Regions from separate parts of the Homo sapiens genome. Here all the other regions are linked to region 3. The links come from fine-mapping of genetic effects on gene expression. A gene starts in region 3. Each other region holds a variant in brackets. All regions are shown on one strand. Distances are from middle to middle.

Region 1 (8,189 bases), 65 kb after region 3:
GAGCCTTCTATGTTTCTTAAAGAATTTTTTTTTTCTTTTTTGGGGAAGGGGAAAAGGTCTGTAGGATAAGCTTATTTAATATGACATCAGTTGAATAAAGCCAGCTGTGAGTAATTATCTCCGATATTTGATTTCCAGCTGTTTTGTTGAACTGTTATGGGCTCTCAAGGTATTTGGATATTAATTAAATGATGACTCATTACAAAGGAGTCTTGTTTTAAATACTACTTTATAAAATAGAACATTAAAATAGACCAACTGGTACAAAGTTTTAATCTTTTCTGGAGTAACTATTTTTTCCTACCTGGTTCATTTTCATGTTTATTTTAAAGTCAATACATTTTTAACTTGGAGGAAATCATTCAGATCGGATATGTTTTGGTAATTATTTTATATAATTGTATGTATATCTATATATCTCTATCTGTATACATAAATATAATTAAATGTGTCTTCTCTTTGCCTAAAGGTTTTTGAAGTCAGGTTATCATTAGTGAATAATTCATATCAGGTTGAATATAAGAGCAGGTATTTTCATTTTAGCATGTTGGATACTGGACATCAGATTGTGTAAACAATGGATTTTTGTTTGTTTTTTTGAGAGAGGGTCTCAATCCGTTGACCAGGCCGGAGTGCAGTGGCAGGATCACAGTTCACTGCAGTCTTGACTTCAGCCTCTTGAGTAGGGAAAGACTACAGGCGCCTACCCCAATGCCCAGCTAATTTGTTTAGTTTTTGTAGGGTTGGGGTCTCGCTATGTTGCCCAGGCTGGTCTCGAATTTATGGGCTCAGGCAGTCCTCCAGCCTCTGCCTCCCAAAGTGCTGCGATTACAGGCATGAACCACTGTGCCTAGCTAACAATGGACATTTTGGAAAATGTGAAAAGAAATCACAGAGGTTACAAGAAAGATTTTTTTAAAAAGTCATTGAACAATGAAATAAGAAATTAGGAAGTAGGACTAGTCAAAAGTGGATTAGTGCTCCAAAGATGTAAGGAAAAGGGGCCGGGAGCATTGGCTCACACCTGTAATCCCAGCACTTTGGGAGGTGGGTGGATCACAAGGTTGGGAGTTTGAAACCAGCCTGGCCAACATGACAAAACCCCATCTCTACTAAAAATACACAAAATTAGCTGGGCGTGGTGGCGGGCACCTGTAGTCCCAGCTACTTGGGAGGCTGAGGCAGGAGAATTGCTTGAACCCAGGAGGCGGAGGTTGCAGTGAGCCGAGATCATGCCACTGCACTCTAGCCTGGGCAACAGAGCAAGACTCCATCTCAAAAAAAAAATGTAAGGAAAAGGGCAGAGGCATAAATCAAAACTGAGCAAACCCTCAGGGCTCTGGCAATGAGACTGGGTGTGGCAGAGGCCTGTGGGGTGAGGGGTGAGTGCGTCTAGAGGAAATGTACTGTTTTGCAGATAATAAGTATTGATCAGACATGCATTTTTACCTCTGCTGTGGGATTTTAGTCTCATTACTTTGTTGATCTACTTTGTAGTTAACCTAGAGAAGTTAACACAGCCATTGCTACAGAGCTTTCTGCCACTTGAGTTCCAGAATTCCAGAATCCAGTTTCCTAGGGATTGTGGGGAGTAAAAAGAGGTATAGGGTATGGTCCCTGTATGGGAGCAATACAGTCTTTATTGAGTAGTGTCTATATTGTCTTGTTTACTCAGGTATTTCATATATACATTAAAAAAACCGACAATAAAAATGAACATATGAAAACTTCCTTATTTGTGATACATGAGTAAATGTTGATGAGATTAGAGAAGGGGTCCAAAAAGGTTTCTCTGAGGATATGAGTTGAGTTGCCCATCAGGATGGATTGGGTAGTGGATGCTGATGTGGGCAAACACTGGAATAGACCTCAGATGCTGCATGATGTGCCTGTGTAACACAGTTGAAATTTGGTGATCAAGGGACATATTACAGCAGGGTAGGGCAACCGCCTAAAAAATGACTTGGGGTCCTTTAATTGGTTTATGTTGTACATGGTGAAAGAAGAGAAGGCCCCGAAATGACCATGGCATAGAAAATAGAAATCAAAAAGAAAAGTATGACAGGAGACTTTACAGGATTAAAAAAAACCACGACTCATTAAATGTGTGAAAAAAGAGAAAATAGTTGCTACTAAGTTGAAAACTCCTACGTGGTTTTCACTGGAATAGCTGGGACACTGGTGCAGGCACCAGAAGTAGAGAAATCTAAACATGTGGCCAGTTTTTTGGGGGAAATTTAGTGTGAAGTTTAGTTACCATTTGAAATGACGCTTCAGCAGCTTCAAATGGTAACTAATCAGCTGGGAATTGTGGTGGTTTGTAAAAAAAAGTCAGAGTCCAGGAGTCAGTTGTAAAGATAGGCTGAGAATAGATGCGATATCTTAGGGAAGGATCCTTATGAAGAAGAATGACGGTTCAAAGCCCAGCCCTGGGAGTACCTAACATGGAGAGACTGCAGAGCCCATGTTGGGCCGGGAAAGACCCAAGGGGAAGGACTGGCCACACAGCACTGGGTGCCTTCCCGAAGTTTCATACCCTTTCCTTTTGTGATTTTTTTTCTTCTTGTGTGTCACTGTCAAATTTTAAAAAATGTTCTATTTAATATTGTTTGTCTTACTAGAAAGGACAATGATTTTCTCTGTTTTGTATGCTAGTGTGTTCCTGGCATCTAGAATAGAGCTTGACACTATTCTTGGCACAAGAAGAAAAAAGGATTTGCTTTAAAGAGATCACTGGTGATCTTGGAGAAACAAATTTCAGTAAATTTAGGGGCAAAGATCAGATTCCCAAAAGTTATACAATAACTGGATAGTTGAGAAAATGGACCAAAGGAATGTACCTGTTTAATGTAGTGGTAGATTTACTTCCACAAGTATTGTTGTCTTTGATTTACTAACATTTTTCTATTACAGTAAAAATTAGGATCAACTATGATGAAATGAAATTTAAAAATAAGGTGGTGAGGCTCATATGTGTAAATATGTATGATCTTGAAATTTTGTCATGTTGTCCAGTGACGCAGTTTTTATAAAAACCTTGGTGCCATTACTCAAAACAGGTTTAGAATTTATGTTGGGGTTATTGCCAGAGTTGTTTAGTGAATTCTACAAGGAAGTTACCTCTTTACTTTCATACAACAGTATGTTGTTTTTGAGCCTGATTGAACTTAAATATATTCAACCCCTTTACCAGGCTTAAGTCTGGGTGAGTATGTTGAATGTTTTCACAAGCCAAATCTCCCCAGAAAGGCTGAGGAATTACTACTAATTACAATATTCAAAGGAATGTATTTCCAGGTATTCTTGAAGCACACATACCTATGCGTGCATTTGATAGCCAGAACATTACAGTGAATGACCAGTGAACAGTCAGGAAACAAATCCATCCTTGGCCTCCCCTTTTTATTTTTATTTTCCCTCCCCAGTTCATTGCAAAGGAGGCAGACTAGATGCCGGGCAGCCAGGCCCCACACATGGTTCAGCACAGCTGGTGGTTCTGCCAAGTTGGGTTTCATCCCCAAGAGCATGCAGATTTATTAGTACATTTTGGCAGAAGACATCACTTTATATTAAATTATTATTGAACTGTCATAAATTTAAATAGTAAAAGGGTATACTTTGAAAACGACACCTCTTTTCTAATGATAAAAGGACCTGATGATACATGTAGGATACGGTCACGTTTCATTATGCGTAGGAGGTACTCAGTAACAGTTTTCCAATGGAAAGAATGAGAAGTTATGGGTATTTATTATTTTTCATATAATTGCTTTGTAGGTAGCTTGAGGATCAAAGGCTAGAAGAGAAGAATATATGTGATAGGATATAGAAGTTTTGATATCAGCTGGCAGCAGTGGTAGAGTGGAAGAAAGCATTTGTGAATTTGGGAGTAAGAAAACTTGTCTTCTGACAACCGTTATTCATAATTGAATTTCTATCTTGCATTGTGGCCATTTGTGAGAATCTTTTATCTATTCTAGCAAACTGAGTTTCTTTGAGGACCAGAGTATATTGTACCAACCTTTGTATCCCCAAGGCAACATCCCAGCACAGTGCTTTGCACAGAGCAAGTATTCAATACTTTGAATTGACCAGTGAACTGCAAATGAAGGGAAAGGATAACATCTGAACAGATTTTGGAACCCCCCTCAACTCCCAATCTATGTGGAAATTTGAGACTAAATAAAAGTTGTCATTTGTATTAGGAAAAAAAATGTGTGTTTAATTAAATACTCAATTACACGTCAAATTCTGCTGTTCTCTTGTTTTTAAAAGTTTATTTTTAAAATTGATACATAAAAATTATAGGTATTTATGGTGTACAACGTGATTTGAAATATGCATACATTGTGGAATAGCCAAATTGAGCCAATTAACATACATATTACCTCAACTTATTTTTTGTGGTTAGAACACTTAAAATTTACTTAGTGATTTAAGAATACAATATATTGTTGTTAACTGTAGTTACCATGTTGTACATTAGAGCTCTTGAACTTACTCCTCCTAGCTAATTTTGTGTCATTTGATCAACATCTCCCCAACAGCCCCCCCTCCCCAGCCCCTTGTGACCACTGTGGGAACTCTCTACTCCTGTGAATTCAACTTCTCTAGATTCTACATATAGATGAAATCACACAGTATTTGCCTTTGTACGCCTGGCTTATCTCACTTAACATATCCTCCAGGTTCATTTATATTGTCATAAATAATAGGATTTCATTTTTTTTAAGGCTAATATTCTGTTATACCTATATACCGCACTTTCTTCATCCATCCATTGAGGGACGTTTAGGTTGATTCCGTATCTCAGCTGTTGTGAATAATGGTGCAGTGAACATGGGAGTGCAGGCATCTCTTCAACATAGTGATTTCATTTCCTTGAATATATAGCCAGTAGTGGGACCGCTTGATCATATGGTAGTCCTATTTTTAATTTTTTTGCAGGAACCTCCATACTGTTTTCCATAATGAATATACTAATTTACATTCTCATCAACAGTGAGAATTTCTCTTTTCTTCACATCCTCTTCA[A/G]TGCTCATCTCTTTTTTTTTTTTTAAACAGCCATTCTTACATGTATGAGGTTTTGTTGTGGTTTTAATTTGCATTTCTTGGATGATTAGTGATCTTGAACATTTTTTCATATACCTGTTGGCTATTTGTAGTCTTTTGAGAAATGTCTATTCAGGTCCTTTTCCTATTTTGAAATTGGGTTACTTGTGTTTTTTTGCTATTGAGTTGTTTTTCTTATATATTTTGTATATTAACCCCCTATCAGGTGTATGGTTTGCAAATACAGTCAGCCCTCCATACACTCAGGTTGCACCTGCAGATTCAACCAACCATGGATCGAAGATATTTTAAAAAACCAATAAACAAACAATACAACAGTAAAAACTAATACAGTAAAAAAGACAATACAGTATAACACCAACTATTCACATAGTATTTACATGGCATTAGATACGATAAGTAATCTAGAGATAATATATGGAAGGATGTGCATAGGCTACACGCAAACCCTATGCCATTTTATATAAGGAAAATCCTCGGGGGCGGGTTCTGGAAGCAACCCATCATGGATACTAAGGGTCAGCTTTATTTCCTCCCATTCTGTAGGTTGTCTCTTTAGCCCAACTGTTTTCTTGGCTATACAGAAACTTTTTAGTTTGATGTGATCCCATTCATCTATTTTTGATTTTGTTGCCTTTACTTTTGGGGTCATTTCCAGAAAATTATTGCCTGTACCAATGTCATGGAACTTTTCAGATGTTTTCTACTATTAGTTTTACGGTTCCAGGTCTTACGTTTAAGTCTTTATTTTGAGTTTATTTTGTGTATGGTATTAATAAGGGTCTAATTTTATTCTTCTGCATGTGTAGATACCCAGTTTTCTCAACATCATTTATTGAAGAGACTCTTCTTTCCCCCATTGTGTGCTCTTGGTACCTTTTTTGAGAATCAGTTGACTGTAAATGGTGGATTTATTTCTGATCTCTCTGTTCTGTTACCCTGTCTACTTCTTAAGTGGTCTACTATTAGAGTGTTGCAACATTGTTATTTTACTTTAAGACCAGACATTATCTAAGAAAACAAAAAAGATAAACTAAAATGCTGTTTTGAGTATGTTGTAGGAAATCTCTGCAGCCTGACATATTTTGGCAGAAGCCAAAGAGTTACTGATAACCTCCTTCACCCTGAGGCACTCCTCTCCGTTTGATTTTCATAATTACCTTTAACTTGAACAACAATAATGTTCCACATGCCAGTGTTCATAAAAGAAAGTGCCTACTACACGTCAAGGCACTGATGATTCGCTTAGAAAATCTTAGATACTCTTATTATTCCTATTTTACGGGTGGAGAGACTGAGCCACAGAGAGGTTGAGTGACTTGTTCAGGGATGCCAAGCTGGTAAATGGCAGTCAGATACTGAACTCAGTCAGTGTTGCTCAAGTGACTCATCTGCCTAGTGGCCTGGCAAGCAGAGAGTATGCAGGGGAATTGCCTGGAAAGGTGCACTGTGATTACCTGTTCTGTCCACAACATCTTCCTACATCATTTTGCAAATTTTTCGTTCTATACCAAGGCCCAGAGTTCCACTAGTAGTTCTAGAGATATCTTTCATGTAAAAGGAGTGTCTCTTAAATTTTTTTTTTTAAGAATCTTTCATGGGATAGGGTCAAAATACCTAGAATACTTTTTTCTGGAAAGTTTTCATAGAGAATAAGAGCCGGAAGTAAAAGGTAAATAATTCTGCAACTTTGCAGTCACCTCACTCACTCAGTAAGATTGCTTTAGGTAGGTGTCAGAGACAAGTGTCCCAAGTTTTTGGATTTTCATCAAGCCAAGACCATTGCCCTTCATACTACCGTTCAAGAGTTACAGCACCAAAATAGGGTAGGCAACTTAAAACATTTCTTCTGTTAAGGATATTAGATAAAACAGTGAACTACTATCTAGTATCAATATAATTTCAAGTAATGACATTATAAAAAAAAGGGAAGGTTACAGTCCCACAATAAAGGAGAACTCTTTAAATGGAATACATTAAGCTTATCAAGGATCTCAACTCATTGTCCTTAATCTCTCATTTTGCCACACACTAGTGAGAATTCTCTGGTGGACCTACATTTGGAACCTTTTCACTAGCCTTCTTTGAAATCTTTTACCAAGAAAATATTTTATAGCTTCCTTTTCCTTCTTCCTGTATGGGTCCTGTAGTTCTCGGATGCAGTAGCTGATAGACCCAACCACCCTTTATAACACTGGCCCTGAGGCAACACACATTTTAAGTTATGCACAAGTATTTTAGGAAATGTGAAGTTGGGAACCGTTCTCCTACCTTCCCTATTCATGTTCCTTTCTGATTGTGATGGCTGCTCTGCAGTAATTGACTTCATAGGATATTCACTCTTACCACCCCAAGGGCTCTTTGCTTCCTTCTGATTTCTGGAGAATCTTGGTAATGATGATCTGAGGGCTTTAAATGTTGGGGGTGGGATGTCAGAGTATCAATGTTGTGAAGGTAAAGGTCTACTTATTTATGAATGTGATGGAGTCTGTCATATAAATCAAATGTACACATGTACAATTTTAAGTTGTAATGCACGCATGCTACTTCCTCTGTAAGTGGGGGAGGTAGAACAGTTATCAGTAGGATAAGTAAAGTGAGATTCTTAGCTTCAAAGGAGAATTCAAAACATGTATTGAAAGGTGAGATACTTCAGAAACTATAACTTGCTGTCCCTTCTAGTGGAGCACTTGATTAGAAAATACATATTTTTACATATTTTTAAGTCTCTGATTCTTCTTTGAAATTCAGTAATACCCAGCATTTTCTGTAACTGCCCTCCTCTGCACCCTTTCCCTAAATAGTTTATCTGATTGGATAAACTATTCCTCTTCTCTGCTCCTTCACCTTTCATGGATAGGTCTAAAAGAGATCAATTTTGAACAGACCTAAAATTTCTTTAGCATTTTAGCTCATTTTCTGACCAATAGTGGAAGGCTTTAATTACATATGTCGAATATTCTCATTTGCTTCTCCTGTCCTCTTGAGAAATAGAAAATTTGAGAATAAGTAGTACTATTGGTGGTTGACTCCTTGGTAAAACATTCAAGATGGGAAAAACAGATGTCAAATTATTTTTGTCTTTTGTCCTAGAAAAATGGCTACAATGAAATTTT
Region 2 (8,189 bases), 150 kb after region 3:
CCTCAGCCACCTCCCCATGGGGCAGGGCTCGGGACCTGCAGCCCGCCATGTCCGAGCCCCCCACCCTCCGTGGGCTCCCGTGCTGCCTGAGCCTTCCCGACGGGCGCCGTCCCTTGCTCTGCAGCGCCTGGTCCCATCGACTGCCCAAGGGCTGAGGAGTGCAGTGTGGGACTGGTGGGGAGCTCTGCCCGCGTCCCAGGCGTGGGATCCACTAGGCAAAGCCAGCTGGGCTCCTGAGTAGAGTGGGGACTTGGAGAACTTTTGTGTCTAGCTGGAGGATTGTATATGTACCAATCAGCACTCTGTGTCTAGCTCAGGGTTTGTGGATGTACCAGTCAGCACTCTGTATCCAGCTAATCTGGTAGGGACTTGGAGAACTTTTATGTCTAGCGAGAGGATTGTAAATGCACCAATCAGCACTCTGTCTAGCTAAAGATTTGTAAACGCACCAATCAGTGCTCTGTGTCTAGCAAGTCTCGTGGGGACTTTGAGAACTTTTATGTCTAGCTAGAGGGTTGTAAATGCACCAATCAGCACTCTGTGTCTAGCTCAGGGATTATAAATGCACCAATCAGCACCCTGTCAAAACGGGCCAATCAGCTGTCTGTAAAATGGACCAATCAGCTCTCTGTAAAATGGACCAATCAGCAGGATGTGGGTGGGGTCAGATAAGGGAATAAACAGGCTGCCCAGTTTGCCGCCGCGATCTGCTTGGGTTCGTTTCCACAGCGTGGAGTAAATTTTGCTGCGGCTCACGCTTTGGGTCTGCCACGTCTTTAAGAGCGGTAACACTCACCGCGGAGGTCTGCAGCTTCCCTCCTGAAGTCAGAGACCACGAACCCACCAGAAGGAACAAAGACACATCTGAACATCTGAAGGAACAAACTCTGGACACACCATTTTTAAGAACTGTAACATTCACCGTGAGGGTCTGTGGTTTCATTCTTGAAGTCAGCCAGACCAAGAACCCACCAATTCCGGAGACACAACTCCACTTTTCAGGCTTAAGAGATCCTCCCACCTCAGCCTCTTTAGTAGCTGAGACTACAGGCGTGAGCCAGCACACTCGTGTTTTTTGTAGGGACAGGGTTTCGCCATATTGCCCAGGCTGAGTTTGAACTCCTGAGCTCAAGCGATTTGCCTGCCTTGGCCTCCCAAAGTACTGGGATTATAGGCGCCTGGCCCTGTATTTCTTTATACAAAAATTTAAACTGAACCTTTAAAAAAAATGTTTCAATCATCAGGACTTTTGGAACACTTAAGAAAGTTTTTAGAAAGGGATCATTTTGCCATTTGTTAATTTATGAAATAAGCATATCCCTAACCAACTGGGATGTAGAGAATACTTGAGCATCGTTGATATTCTTGATGTCATTTACAGTGGGCATTTTTGAGGAATACTGACGGCTCAGTTTAAAAATTACTCTGTAGTATAAACTTTTGCCTAAATTTTAGTATTAACTTTGGTTAGACTGAAAGAGCAGCCAGCTATTCTGCAAGCGGATTAAGTTGTCAGAGGGTTCTGCTGAAGTGGGTGTAAACAGGAAATCTAAGGACAGTTGATAACTGCATTCTTTCACATCAGCTAAGAGAGGCCGATTGTTTTCTAGTTGCAGCAGTTTTCAAACAGTTTCATCTCTGGACTCCTTTAAACTTCTAAAAAAAATTTTTGGCTCTAATGAGCTTTTGTTTATTATTTACCATATTAAAAATTGAAACAAAAAGTTTTAAATATGTATCCATTGATTAACTTAAAAATAGTGATACACCCATTACACATTAACATGAGGGTTTTTAAGGGGAAATATAAAACAAATTTATAAGAAGAATGATAGTGTTTGATACTTTAGCAAATATGTTTAATATTGGTCTAATAGACAGTTGGGTTCTCACATCTGTATTCAATCTGTTGTGATATGCTGTTCTGGTTGAAGTATGTAAAGTATATGAAGAAAATCTGGCCTCACATGCATAGGTAGTTGGAAAAGGGAAGAGTATTTTAACAGCTTTCAAAAATAAATGTGGGTGTTCTTTCAAAGACTGCACCAAAATTTGACCAGTAGTGGTTTCTTAAAGATCAGTTGCAATGAGGAATTTAAAACCATGTTAGTGTAACTTGCCTTACTCTCTTTTATTAAAACCCATTGGTCTTAATTGCACAATGAAAGGATCTTTTTACTTATGCATACTTTTGTAACATCATGCATTGGTCACTGGGTTAAACAGTCTTCTGAATTTTGGCGCATTATACAATATAAAGAAAAGTCACATTTGTTAATACCACCACAGATCTCATAAAGAAAGGGCCTTAATTATTAAGAAGCTGTCAGACTTACTGTGTTAGATATGTTTTTCAAAATTCTTTTAGTTGAAACTTCAAATTTTATCATTAGCAAATTATTATCATCTGTTTTTCTTCAAATGACAAGCTCATTTTGTTCGTTTTTAGAAAATACCTGCCAGATACCCAATTCCGAATAACCATAGTTTTTTTTTTTATTATTTGTTCTTTCAAATGAAAATGTTTTTCTGTGGCCAGGCGCGGTGGCTCATGCCTGCAATCCCAGCACTTTGGGAGGCCGAGGCGGGCGGATCACGAGGTCAGGAGATCGAGACCATCCTGGCTAATACGGTGAAACCCCGTCTCTGCTAAAAATACCAAAAATGAGCTGGGTGTGGTGGTGGGCGCCTGTAGTCCCAGCTACTCGGGAGGCTGAGGCAGGAGAATGGCGTGAACCCAGGAGGCGGAGCTGGCAGTGAGCCTGGGGAACAGAGCGAGACTCCGTCTCAAAAAAAAAGAAAATGTTTTTCTGTGAAAAAAAGGTGCCAGTTCACTTACGACTGGAATAATTGCACGTCTTTTCCTTGAGACAACCATTGTACATTGTAACAAAAGTGCTTTATGCAAACTTCTCGCTTCATCATACAGAATATTAAAAGGACGTATACTAATGGGTGGAGATATAATGTAATTAATTATTACTGCTTTATCAAGGACACTTTAATACTGGCATTTTCTTTTTTTGCCACTGTGAGTGGTGGTAAAGAATACAAGGACAATATTGGTAATAACAGTAGTTACATAGTAGTAGTGATGCCAGTGTCTTGATATATCCTAAGACATCAGTTAGGTTTTACCCATTTTTGCTTTTGCACTTGAGCGCAGTGAAAAAAGCAAGTAACATTTTAATGTCATAATGAAAACATAGTTTGACTTTATGAACTCTTAAGAGTCTTGGGGACCCTCAGGGGTCCTGAGACCATACTTTGTGAACTAGTCTCTTACAGATTTGATTCACTGGTTTTTCAGATTTTATTTGCATAATATAATAGAGTTCTGCAAATAAACAGAACCAGTGGAGCGTTAAGGGAAGGAGATATTCAGGAATTGGCGTATGCTATTGTGGATGCTGACAAGTCCAAAATCTGTACCTAATACAGCATGACTTTTTTTTTTTTTTTTTTTTTTAAATGAGACAGAGTCTTGCTCTGTCACCCAGGCGGGAGTGAGGTGGCACAATCTCCGCTCACTGCAACCCCTGTCTTCTGGGTTCAAATGATTTTCCCATCTCAGCGTCCCAAGTAGCTGGAACTACAGGCGTGTGCCACCACGCCTGGCTAATTTTTAGTAGAAACAGGGTTTGACCATATTGGCCAGGCTGGTCTCGAACTCTTAACCTCAGGTGATCCGCCTGCCTCGGCCTCCCAAAGTGCTGGGATCACAGGCGTGAGCCACCATGCCCCACCAGCATGAGACTTTAAATAGTCCTGTGGTGCATAATGACATTTTTGTCAGTGAACGACCACATACACAACAGTGGTCCTGTAAGATGAAGTACAGTATTTTTACTGTAGCTTTTCCGTGTTTAGGTATGTTTACATATACAAATACTATTGTATTACAGTTGTCTGCAGGATTCAGTACAGTGACATGCTGTACAGATTTGTCACCTAGGAGCAATAGGCTATCCCAAAGAGCCTAGCTAGGTGTGTAGTAGGCAACATTATCTAGGTTTGTGCAAGTACACTCCCATGATGTTTGTACAAAGACAAAGTTGCCCAATGACGCCGTTCTCGGAATGTATTCCCCGTCATTCTGTCGTTATGATGTGTGGCCATTTTTAAAACTTCTTTCTTCTCAAAACTCCCCTTACCTTATTTCTAGAATTCTTCTCTTTCTTTTGCTCTATTTTGAATATATAGTTTTTTTTTTTTTAACTGGTGCCTTTGTGCTGCCTTCAGTCTTTTTCTGTCTCCTTGTTCTTATATTAAGACATAAGTGACCAGTTTCCCTTGTTACCACAAAGTGTGATTGGCAACTCATGACTGTGCTCTGACATTCAAAATTCTTTCGGTAATCAGCTACTATAAAGCAAAATAATTGTCTGAGGGGATAGAGCTGCCTTTGGAAAGGCACCAGAAATGTTGTCTCAACTCCTCAAATCTGAAATGGTGGGTCTCCCTTGGTGAAAACTGAAATGGCCAGATGAATATTCTACGTGATAAGGGGTCACCATAGGTTCTTGCATTGTTTTTGGGTAGAGATTTTTTTTTAAATAGTCTCATTTTCTTCCATACTGTGTTTTTACTTTTATTGTAAATACCATGTTTTGTAGTAGTTGATTGGATTATTAATATCTTGTTAATTTTGTTTTTAATCTTAAAACTTCACTGAGTTTAGTGATATATACTTTTAAATTTTTGTCGAACAGATTTTAAGTTTGCT[TTATGTCTTGGAAAAAA/T]TATTTACTTCCTATAAAATATAACCCATCCAGAAAACAGGTTTTTTTATACACTTGCTCTAAGACAATCTTTTAGTAAGCATTTCATAGATGATCAGTACATTTTGTTTATGTCTAGCATGCTGTTGAACTGACCAACATGATTTCTGAAATTCATCTCTGATCTCTTTTTTTAGTTTAATTTTATTTAAAGTTCCAGGATACATGTGCAGGATATACAGCTTTGTTACATAGGTAAACGTGTGCCATGGTGGTTTGCCGTACCTGTCAACCCATCACCTAGGTATTAAGCCCATGTATTAGCTTTATGTATCCTGATGTTCTTCCCAGTATGGCCCCCTGCAGGCCACAGTGTCTGTTGTTCCCCTCCCTGTGTTCCCTCTTAAAAGTGAGAACATGCAGTGTTTAGTTTTCTGTTCCTTGTTAGTTTGCTGAGGATAATAGCTTCTAGCTCCATCCATGTCTCTGCAAAGGACATGATCTTGTTCCTTTTTATGGCTGCAGAGTATGCCATGGTGTATATGTATCAAGTTTTCTTTATCCAGTCTATCATTGATGGGTATTTGGGTTGATTCCATGTCTTTGCTATTGTGAGTAGTGCTGTGATGAACATATGTGTGTGAGTATCTTTGTAATAGGATGATTTCTATTCTTTGGGTATATACCCAGTAATGGGATTGCTGGGTCAAATGCTATTTCTGCCTCTAGGTCTTTGAAGAATCGCCACACTGTCTTCCACAATTATTGAACTAATTTATACTCCCACCAACAATGTAAGTGTTTCTTTTTCTCTGCAACCTCACAGGCATCTGTTGTTACTTGACTTTTTAATAACAGCTATTCTGATTGGTGTGAGATGGTATCTCATTGTGGTTTTGATTTGAATTTCTCTAATGATCAGTGATGTTTGAGTTTTTTTCATGTTTGTTGGCTGCATGAGTGTCTTTTGAGAAGTGTCTGTTCATGTCCTTTGCCCACTTTTTAATGGAGTTGTCTGTTTTTTTCTTGTAAATTTTTTTTGTTTCTCGTAGACTCTGGATATTAGACCTTTGTCAGGTGGATAGATTGTAAAAATTCTCTCCCATTCTGTAGGTTGTCTATTCACTCTGATGATAGTCTCTTTTGCTGTGCAGAGGCTCTTTAGTTTAATTAGATCCCATTTTGTCAATTTTTGATTTTGTTGCAATGCTTTCGGTGTTTTTGTTTTGTTTTGTTTTGTTTTTTGTGAAACCTTTGCTCATGCCTGTGTCCTGAATGGCATTGTCTAGATTTTCTTCTAGGATTGTTAATAGTTTTGGGTTTTACATTTGTATTAGTCAGTTTCACACTGCTGATAAAGGCATACCTGACACTGGGCAATTTACAAAAGAAAGATATTTAATTGGACTCACAGTGCCACCTGGCTGGGGAAACCTCACAATCATGGCAGAAGGCAGGGAGGAGCAAGTCACATCTTACGTGGATAGCAGCAGGCAAAGAGAGGGCTTGTGCAGAGAAATTCCCGTCTTTAAAACCATCAAATCTCATGAGACCCATTCACTATCATGAGAACAGCACAGGAAAGACCCGCCCCATGATTTAATCGTCTCCTACCAAGTCCCTCTCACAACACTTGGGAATTACGGGAGCTGTAAAATGAGATTTGGTTGGGGATGCAGAGCCAAATCATATCAACATTTAAGTCTTTAATCTATCTTGAGTTAATTTTTGTAAAAGGTGTAAGAAAGGAGCAATTTCAGTTTTCTGCATGTGGCTAGCCAGTTCTCCCAGCACCATTTATTAAATAGGAAATGTTTTCCTCATTGCTTATGTCAGGTTTGTTGAAGATGAGATGGTTGTAGATGTGCAGTCTTATTTCTGAGTTCTCTATTCTGTGTCATTGGTCTGTGTGTCTGTTTTTGTAACAGTACCATGCTGTTTTGGTTACTGTAGACTTGTATAATTTGAAGTCAGGGTAGCATGATGCCTCCAGCTTTGTTCTTTTTGCTTAGTATTGTCTTGGCTATATGGGCTCTTTCATCCCTGATTTCTCGTTTCTTGTCCTATCCCATTTAAAGTCTTAGGGGTCAGTTGTAGAATTAATGAGTGAATGCCTTCCTGTATTAATAATATGAAATGCTACTTTATGACACACCTAGGTAATGTAATCTTCCATGAACATGAACTATCTGGCCAGTTGTTAGCAATTCTAATAATGATAACCTGATATTTACAATTAAATATTCTAGTATTATCTTTGGTTTGTAAATATCAAAATGGTAGTAACTGACAATTTCAAAGTGTAACTAAAATATGAATAGTAAAATACTCTCCATGCCTTTTTAGAGCTGCTAAAGAGAGGGAGAAATTAGGTGTGTGTTTTGTTTGTTTATTCATTTATTTATAAAAAGGAATATTGAATGCTGTTATCTTAAACTCATGTGGCTGTATTGGTAGGCTGACTTTTTTCTCAAGAAAATATTTTAGAAATTTTTGTGTCATTTAAAATATTTTCTATATTGAGATGGTCTTCTATATTTATTTATTTTTCAGGCAAGTTTATTTGGAAGCATTTCCCGTCTGGAATGTATTTGATTACAACAAAAGGGCAGGCACAATTCTATTTCTGGTAGTAAAGTCTGTTGGTTAATGCGTCCATTTATAATTACTGTCACTTTCTTTTTTTTAGAAAGACTATTAAACCATTTTGAAAACTTACATAGTTTGATATTTATTTCCAGACACTAGATTTTTTAAAAATAAAAATGTATTTGTTAAATATTAAATTTCTGAAGACTCAATAGGTCTATGAAAGCAGATAGTATCTTTATGCCATTGTGTATATCCTTTGCACAACAGATAATACAGGTCTCAGCAATACCCTGGTTGTATCATGTTGATATCTTTGGATCAAACTTGCAAAATTAGCATTATTTAGTATTTCTAGGAGTGGCATTATAGATCTTCCTGCTTTAACAGGTCTATACAAGGATATCAGCACAAAGAACTTAGTCCCAGACAACTGTACATTAATTAATGGGTTGGCCGAGGCTTGAATGCAGCTGACTTTTTAGAATATTTTAGAGAGAATAAAACTGACACTTATTGAAGGTTTATGATACACCAGTCTGCTAGATGTTTACTGATGTGTTTTGTCAATGAAACTAGCCCACAGTTCAGTATTTCCCCGTCAGTAGATAAGCATGCACTGGCCAAAGAGGTTAAGTAACATGTTCAATATTCATGGTCACTCAGGTAGTAAATGTTAGAAAGCCAAACATAGGTCTTTCCCATTCCCAATCTATGAAATTACTCATTTTTAAAAATGAATTTAACATGTATTGCTTTTTATGTTATTTAAACTTAAAATGTGGCCCAAAGGAGATATATATCAAATAATTTAACCGCTTTAGAAGTATACCATTTAAGTGCCTTTTGAAGAAAGAGACTGGGGCATAGAATGTCCAA
Region 3 (8,189 bases):
CATGTAGCCTATTTTAGTGTCAGTTCTTCATCTGTAAATAAGATAACACTGTCCCACTAGCCTCAGAGAGTTGCAATGATGAGAATAATCTTAAATATAACTACCATTTATTGAGTATATACTGTTGTTAAACCACTATGCAAGGCACTTTGCATGTATTATCTTGGATCGTCACAAATCTTCAGGGTATGCAACTTTTTCTTTTTTTGTGACAGGGTCTTGCTCTGTTACCCAGGCTGGAGTGCCATGGTGTGATCATAGCTCACTGCAACCTTGAACTCCGGGGCTCAAGATAACCTCCCACCTCAGCCTCCTGAGTAGCTAGGACTGCAAGTGCACCCCACCATGCCCCGCTCCTTTTTTTTTTTTAAGTTTTTGTGCAGCCAGTGGTCTTGCTATGTTGACCAGGCTGGTCTTGAACTCCTGGCCTCAAGCTATCCTCCTGGTTCAGCCTCCCAAAGTGCTGGGATTACAGGTGTAAGCCACTTTGCCTGGCCAGACTATTCAATTTGTACTCTCTTTTTATAAAACAGAAAACAGGCTCAGAGAGGTTAAGTTTCCTCTCCCAGTTTTCTCCCCGCAACCAGGGACACAAGTGAGATAATGTATGTAAAAATCTCATACAAATACAAGGTAACATGAACTACTTCATGTATCCATTTAATACCTATTTGTTGGCTGCCTGTCTTGTGTTGAGGATATAGCAGTAAATAAAAGGGACAAACATCCCTGACTTAGAAGCTTACATTACAGTGGAGGGATAAAACAATAAATAAAATAAATAAGTATAGATGGTTCTCAATTTACGATGGTCAATAAATTGACTTTCGATTTTTCCACTTTATAATGGGTTTATCAGGGTATTAAATGCATTTCTGACTTACAATATTTGCGACTTACAATGGTTTCTCAGGATGTAACCCCATCCTAAGTGGGCAAGCACCTGTACAATATACAGTATGTTAGGTGGTAAGTAAAGCGACGAAGATAACCAGAGTGTATGGAGTTACAGGGAAGGTGACATTCAAATGAAGATATGATGACAATGAGGAACAACATTCTATATTTTGGTTGTTGTGTGTGTGCATTTTTCTTTTTGTTTTTTGTTTTTGTGGGTGCAAGTGGGGTGGGGAGAGGGGGAGAGATAATCCAGGCAGTAGAGGGAACAGCAGATGGAAAGGTCATGAGACTGGAATTTGCTGTTTCAGAAACAACATGGAGGCTAATGTGCTTGGGAACAGAATAGTAGAAGAGGTCAGAGAGATAAAGGTCCATAGGATATTCAGGCCATGGTAAGACTTTGGCTTTTACCTTGAGTGGTATGAGGAGCTAAGCAGAGGAATGATTTGAGAAGGAGTGAAAAGAATTCACACTTTGGCTGCTGTGTTGGAAATGAACTGTATGGCAAGCAAGGTTAGAAAGAGGGGGACCAGGTGGGTGGTTATGACAAAGTGCTGGCCAGACATGATGCTGGATTGCACCAGGGTCATGGCAGTAGAAGTGGTAGATAAAGGTTAGAGTTCAGATATGGCATTCTGGAGGTTGAGCTGACGATTTTTACTGACACTTTTGAGGTATAACAGAAAGAAAGGAGTCAAGGAAGTCAACGTTTTCACCCAGGAAGTGAGAATGGTGTAGATGTGATTAACAGAGGATGGGGAAGGCTGTGGGTGTCTGAGACAGGAGATCTGGAGCCTGGTTTGCACATGTGAATTCTGAGATGTCTATTAGACACCAGGTGGAGATGTCAGTTATATTTTTTCACTTCATTGGGTTTGAATTCTTTTATCTGCCTCTCTCCTTTTTTCAGAGCTGTATTGGCACTTATTCATGTTCCTTTGCTTTCAAGGTAGTGGCCTATGTCATAGAGAATTTGATGTTGGCGCTCAACTAAGAGGTGAAAGAGAAATATAGAGAAGCAGTTCCAGCAAGAGTAATATAAAAAGGTCTACAGATACAATTTGTAACTCAGATTCCCTTTCACAAGGTTGGGCAGGGACAGTCCCTTTGCTAGGAAGTCACACAAGCTGTTTAGTGCACACAGGTGACTTAAGGAACCCCAAAATGTTAGCTGACAATCTATTCCAAGTGTTTAAACTAGATGTTGAAAATCATGTTTGAAAAGTTCAACGCAGTAGCTCATACATAAAACTCATTGTGTCTATAGATATCAAAATAAGAACTTGTGGGGGGTGGGGGCAAACAAAAATAAATCCCTGGGACCAGAACAGCAGAGTGGTCCCCGATGCTTGGGCTGACCTTAACACACCTCTACGTGGCCGGGGCAAGGAGTGGGGGGGAGCTGAGGGAATCAGCAGGAGCGGTGACATCTTGAAGGACGAGGTATTGTTTCTGCACCATGTGGGTCCGGTTTGGAAATTTGAGCATCTAGAGGAGGAGGCTTGTTCTGTCCAAGGCAAAGCCAGACCTACCAATAAATGTTTCTGATTATGTCACAGAACTTGCCATCCTGGTCTGTCGCTAAGGAGTGATCAACTTTAAATCTGGAGTGTTTGTTGGTCTAGGGGTGGTAGTGGGTCTGGTGTTGAAACCTCTCTGCCTAATTTCGTGGTCATTTTACTGTCTGAGGTGCCAGAGTGGGCTTGGAAAGCAGGGGAGGGTGCAGCAAATTACAAATAAGCAAAATAAATCCTAAGAGGATTTATCGCCACAGAAGCAACTCGGACGCAACTCTTGGGCTCAAAAAGAATGCCCAGTACAGCCCGGGCTGGTGGGCCGGTCTTTTGCCCAAGGTTAGCTTTCAGCCCCTGGGCGGCGGCGTGGCGCCAGGAGCGGGCGGGGAGCAGCGACCCGACGCGGCTGGGTCTCCTAGTAGGGCGCGTCGGGTGTGGGGAGGGGGCGCGGCGTGAGACAGTGGGGGACACTGCGTGAGGAAAGCCCTGCGCTTCTCTCCGGGGCACCAGGACTTGCGCCCCCTCTTCGGGTCCAGGCCGCGCGCGGGACCCGACAGCCCGGCCGAGGGCTCCGCGACCCACTTGCGGCCAGAGCGCTGCTCACCTGGGCGCCGCCGAAGGTGCCGCTCAGACGCGAGGGCGCGGCCGCTGGCGGGCGGGGAGCGGGGAGGCGGGACCCGGCGCGACGGGGCTGCCCCGCCCCCCGATGATGCGGCGGCCGCCGACTCGCCCCCACGCTGTCACTCATTCCTCACCATGGTTGCAGCACAAAGCAACAAGCCCCAGAGGCCGCTTCCTCCCTGAGGAGCGGCTCCGGCGGCCGGAGAAGGCGCAGGAGGAGGAAGAGGCGGAGGAAGAGGAGGGGAATCGCCGCTTCCCAAACACTCTCTCCGAGGGGGCTGTGCGCGGCTCTCGGCTTTCGGCCCTCGGACGCCCGCGCCGGGAGTCCGAACCCGGGCTGTCCGCGGCCCCCTCTTCCCCCTCCTCCGCCCCGCGCAGACGAGGAACAAAGTTGCCGAGAGCGACTGGGCCGGAGGGCTGCAGCCCGGGCCGGGTGCTCTGGCCGCGGCGGCGCCGGCGCCGGGGCAGCTCCGCTCCGGGCGCGCTGATGGGGGGAGGCGGCGGCGGCGGAGCCCACAGCGGCGGCCCGAGCAGCAGAGGCGGCGGCGGCGGCGGCTGGGCGGCCCGAGGGGATGCAGCAGCAGTCGGGAGGGACGGCCGAGCCCAGTAGACAGAGACCAGGAGCGGCGGCCGAGGCGATCGGGCTTCGCAGCGCCCGGACCTGAGCCAGACCCACCTGGTCCGTCCTCCCGACCGGCGGCCGAGGCGCCCGAGGACTGGGGACGCGGAAGATCCAAGTGATTCTCGGAGACCCCTGGGCGGCGGCTGCGCAAGCCCCTGAGAGGAGGGGGCGACCCTCAGCGCCGTGGGGGAGGAGGCTCCGCCTGCCCACAGCCCTCCCCACTGCCACTCGTACCTCCCTAAAAATAACTCGGGCCCGCTGGGGCCAGGAGGAGCCGCCACTGTCCCCCGAGTGGAGCCGGGGAGGCGTGTCGAGCCAGGGCCGGAGGAAGCCGGCGGAGCGGCGAGGAAGAGGAGGAGGAGGAGGAAGGGGAGTTCCGCCTGCGGGCCGCATCGCACGGCAGCCTAGGGGCGCCGCGACCCTCCCGGCTGCGTCCAGCCCCTCGCGCCTGTACCGCGCTCTCGGCCGCCGGGCCCAGCCGAGCCGCCCCCCCGCGGGCCCCGCGCCGCCGCCGCCGCGGTTTGGCTGATTAGTCGCGGGCGGGCGGGCGGGCGCAGCGCGCAGGGCGGAGGCAGCAGCGGCGCTGGGCCGGGAGGAGGCCGGCCAGGGTGCGGAGCGGCCCCGGCCCGCTCCCAGAGGGGAGATGGCGTCCTACGTAGATAACAGCTTCCGCCAGGCGGTGATGAAGAATCCCCCCGAAAGGACCCCCCAGGTGAGAACGCGGCGGCCGCCTGCCCTTGGCCGGATTTCTGCCTCGCAGGCTGCGTCTTCCCCTGTCCCCCCACCTCCTTCCTGACACAGTTCGCCCCGAGCACCCCACTTCTTGCATCAGGACCCCCAACTTCCAAAGGCATCCCACCTCCGAGTCTTTTACTCCGCCTATCCTGGTTTTATTTTTCCCTCTCCTTGACATTCTGCTCCTTAACTCTTCCCTCCCCATGACTGACCTTTCCCACTATGTTGCCCAGCCGAGAGAGAGAGAGAGAGAGAGAGAGAGAGAGAGAGAGGGAGAGACAGAGAGAGAGAGAGAGAGAGTGTGTGTGTGTGTGTGTATGTGTGTGAATGTGTGAATTCTCTAGCTTTCCCTCTCCCCAGCCGCCCTCCGTGGCCTCTGAATCTCAGGGGATGGAGTCTCATCTCCCCTCGGGCAGCGACTCTTGCTCCCTCTGACTCCAGATCCGTTCCTCCCCTTGCAAGTGACCCTTGGAGTTCAGTGGTGTTTGAAAGGTATAGGAGGAAACCTGTACGGTTGTGCTAAAGACAAATCCATGCTGACCTTCAGTAAAACATTGAGGTGTTTGTATGTTTACTGTTTTGCTTTTATTTTTTAAAGGATACTGCTTTCAATTGAAGGGAAAAAAAGTTGAATAGCTAAGTTAGTGCTTTTAGTTTAAATTGCAGACATAGCTGCAGAGCAGGCATGTTCCAGTACACCCTCGGGAAGGGCACCCTGCGGATTCTTTTGGTGTTGCACAACCTTGTCAAAATTAGATAAGTTTGTTAACCTTTATACATTTGTTTACCTGCAGGCTTACTCTTCTCTTACTTATAGCGGCTGATAGGGTTGGATTTGGTTGTCTCAAGTTTTACTGGAGAGGGGGAAATTTTATAAAAATGTGGTAGCTTAATTTTCTCCGCCTTTAGTTGCTGACTGGATAATGACGCATATTCCTAAGCGTTGGGATGGTGACTATAGGAGATCCTGCCTGCCAACCCTCTTAAGACAAATAAGCCCTCCTGATCCTTGGGACCATCAGACATTTAGGATCTAATGCTTGAAAGTGTTGCTTCGCTTGTTAGATGTTGGATGCCATCTGTTCAAATCCAAATGCTCTCCTTCTCTGATGTTGATTATTATTTACTGTGGGGAGAGCATAATAAAATAGACTCTTCCCCTGGCTGCCTTTGGACAAGCCCCAAGAGTGGCACCTGGTACCGTTTTTGATTTTTCATTTTCCTTGATGGAGCTGTCACATCTGGGAGATCATGGATAGATTGCACATATTTATCAAACGTGTGGAAGATGGCTGTAATTTTACAAGAAAATTTATCTGTCTCCAGAAAGTTCCCATTCTAAAAGACTATTTTTATCCCAACAAGGAATGTCCTGCATTGATCTTGTTCTTCTCTTGGTGTTGCACACGCTGCCTTTCCTATGCCTTTCTCATCTATTTGTTTTAAAATGGTCAGTTGGATCAGTCTTCTGCATCTGAAAATGCACATTCCCTGTCTCAGTGTGAAGGAAAAGCAGATTTCAGTGAGATATTTCATTTCCTTTCAAGAATATTGTTTTAAGTGCCAAGTGAAATTACGCATGCTGAGAATATTAGAACCTAGCAAGGCTGGTCAGAAAATGATGTCAGAGGCCTTTGGTGGAAATTAGAGAAGGGGGAAGTGGTGCATTTGGTTGATTAGTTAGAAGAATAACAATGACTAAAACCTACTATCAGGTTGGGGGGCGGGTCACCAAACAAGACTAGAAGAGACAAAACCTCCACTGTGACTGTGGGCCCACTGTGCCAAATAAATGAACTGTTAAACTTTCCTGTTCCCCTGCCAGTTGTGTAGAATAGAGTAAAAACTGACCCAACACAGAACTTGGCCTGGGCCAGCTACTACTAACCCACGACATGAAAGCTTTATTGACAGTCGGAAGGCAGCCCATTTGCCCTACCAAACCTTCATAGAAAAAGTAAACATAAGGAAACCTACCAAACATTTCAAACATTCCTAAGTGTCAGCCCTATTAACTTTGATGTTCGTTTGGTTATTACTACAAATCCCCACGTTTATTTCTTTTCAAGAGAAAGTTGTTCGAAATGTGAACGTTTTCCATCTTTACCTGACTGGCCAGGAGTAATCTTATAAAAATTTGAAATTTACTCAAAAATTATAAAAAAAAAAGTTTTTGTAGAAGGTACTTTTTATGTTAAGAATGCTTTGTTAATGGAACGCTGGAAGATTTTCCATACAGCCTTGTCTTATAAATGTTTGTGAGTTCGAATTTTATAATATTAGAAAAGCAACCATGTTAAATAAGCTTGATATCATGAACAGAAGGACAGGAATTAGGAAAGTTTTGCTGTTTTGCTTCCTTCTGTTTCTGAGGATAGACTCGATAAAGGAGTTTGCATGATTCTCGTTATAGGCAAAAGGAAAAGAATTGGGGAACATATGTAATTTTTTTTCCTGCTGTTCATTTCTGTTTGTTTTTTAAAGGCTTGCTGGCCTCATTCATTTCCCAAGCTCCGTGAAAACATAGTTTTGTATTTAGGTCAATCAATTGCCTAGAAGTAATCCTGATGTCATTGGTGTAACCTAAGAAGTTGGCTAGAAGAGAATCTAGGGGTGGGAAGAGTACCAGGAACTTTCATAAATTGGGAGCTTTTCATGTCCACCTGCACAATGGAAACGCATTTCAGTTATATCTTTAGAGAGGGGGAATAGTAAGGAGAAATACCAAAAAAATTATCATCTAAGTTTTAGCCAGGTTATACATACTCAGTTTCAAGAGACTATCACTATTTCACCTGATATTGTGAGAGGAGGAGGAAAACTCTAATCCAATGTGTGTCCCATATTGTGTGTCTGGAAACCTGGCTGAGTTCTAGTCAATGGGGCATTGTATTCTAAATAACAAACTTCCTTGAAAATAATGAGCCCTGAAAACATTCTACTGATATTTTTCAGTGCACCTCTGTTGAAAAACAGGACTCTTAAGTAATTGCTTTATTTAACCATTTGGGTTTATGTCTTTAATCACTTAAATGAGAAGCTTGGTCACCAAGGCAATTTGGTGAAGTAAAAGATGTAAATAAATTACAAACAGCTTTTATCCCCCAAGGCTTATACAATAAAATGGTTTTTCTAAACCATTTTGTTAACTTGTTGAGTTCAGGCCCTTTGAAATTGCTTCTGTAGAGTGTCTAAATGCATACCATTTTCAGTTTTTCAGGTGAAACATCTATTGCAAAACTGTTTCTTCTCTTTAAAGACCTAATGTAATGCATTTTTAGCTAGTTGTAAAAGTTACTGTTAAAAATGTTATGTGTAAAATAACCCCCACCCCATCTCCTCCTATTTAATAATCTTACTTTTTTTTGGGCTATTACAACTTTTGATATAAGTACTAACTCATTGATGTGTTATAAAGAATACAGGACTTAATTCATTGCTAAGTACTTGGTAGAATTCATCGTGAGTCATAATGAGAGGGCTGAAAAAAGTAACTTTAGCTCAGAGAACTGTAAATTATGAGAAACGGCATGAAAGAATATCTCTGACAAATATTTAACTTTCAAATCTAATGGAAGAATTGTGTCTGTTATAGTTAAATTTTCCATTTGAGTTTCTTTTTACCATTGCTTATAAGCAGACTCATATTTGTCAGCTTATACTCTCATTATATTTTAGCCCATTTTGGGGCTCTAGTAATATTTGTTTCTTAAATAGTTTTTGTTCATAGAATACAACTAAACTATCTGTATGCCATTTAAAAAGCATGTCTCATAAAGAAATGATTGGCCACAAGC

Alleles and levels. Alleles are on the strand shown, and positions count from the first base shown. SD is a standard deviation of normalised expression in the study named. Not every link is listed here.
As copies of T replace TTATGTCTTGGAAAAAA in region 2, the expression in monocytes after R848 of the gene that starts at base 3,217 in region 3 goes down (large effect, 1.0 SD a copy in Quach 2016).

What was found. PIP is the estimated chance that this variant, and not a neighbour inherited with it, causes the effect.
Region 1: its variant is the best candidate, but not a certain one, in a credible set for the expression of RAPGEF2 in whole blood (TOPMed, PIP 0.71).
Region 2: its variant is the best candidate, but not a certain one, in a credible set for the expression of RAPGEF2 in monocytes after R848 (Quach 2016, PIP 0.55).

What each region holds. Positions count from the first base shown.
Region 1 is chr4:159,165,037-159,173,225 of GRCh38, forward strand. The region is part of intron 1 of RAPGEF2 (Rap guanine nucleotide exchange factor 2); the gene reads left to right. Among named protein-coding and RNA genes, the nearest start is that of MIR3688-1, 40 kb to the left of the region's middle. RefSeq lists enhancers at 4,589-4,698, 4,939-5,048. The variant A/G (reference allele first, on the strand shown) is at 5,035.
Region 2 is chr4:159,251,154-159,259,342 of GRCh38, forward strand. The region is part of intron 7 of RAPGEF2 (Rap guanine nucleotide exchange factor 2); the gene reads left to right. Among named protein-coding and RNA genes, the nearest start is that of MIR3688-1, 130 kb to the left of the region's middle. The variant TTATGTCTTGGAAAAAA/T (reference allele first, on the strand shown) is at 4,727.
Region 3 is chr4:159,099,863-159,108,051 of GRCh38, forward strand. It overlaps RAPGEF2 (Rap guanine nucleotide exchange factor 2), which reads left to right and starts at 3,217. Exons shown (of 30, transcript NM_001394067.2): 1 at 3,217-4,369. The coding sequence starts at 4,301. RefSeq lists an enhancer at 2,367-3,058 and silencers at 2,707-3,246, 3,377-3,596, 3,637-3,926, 3,675-3,969, 3,937-4,356.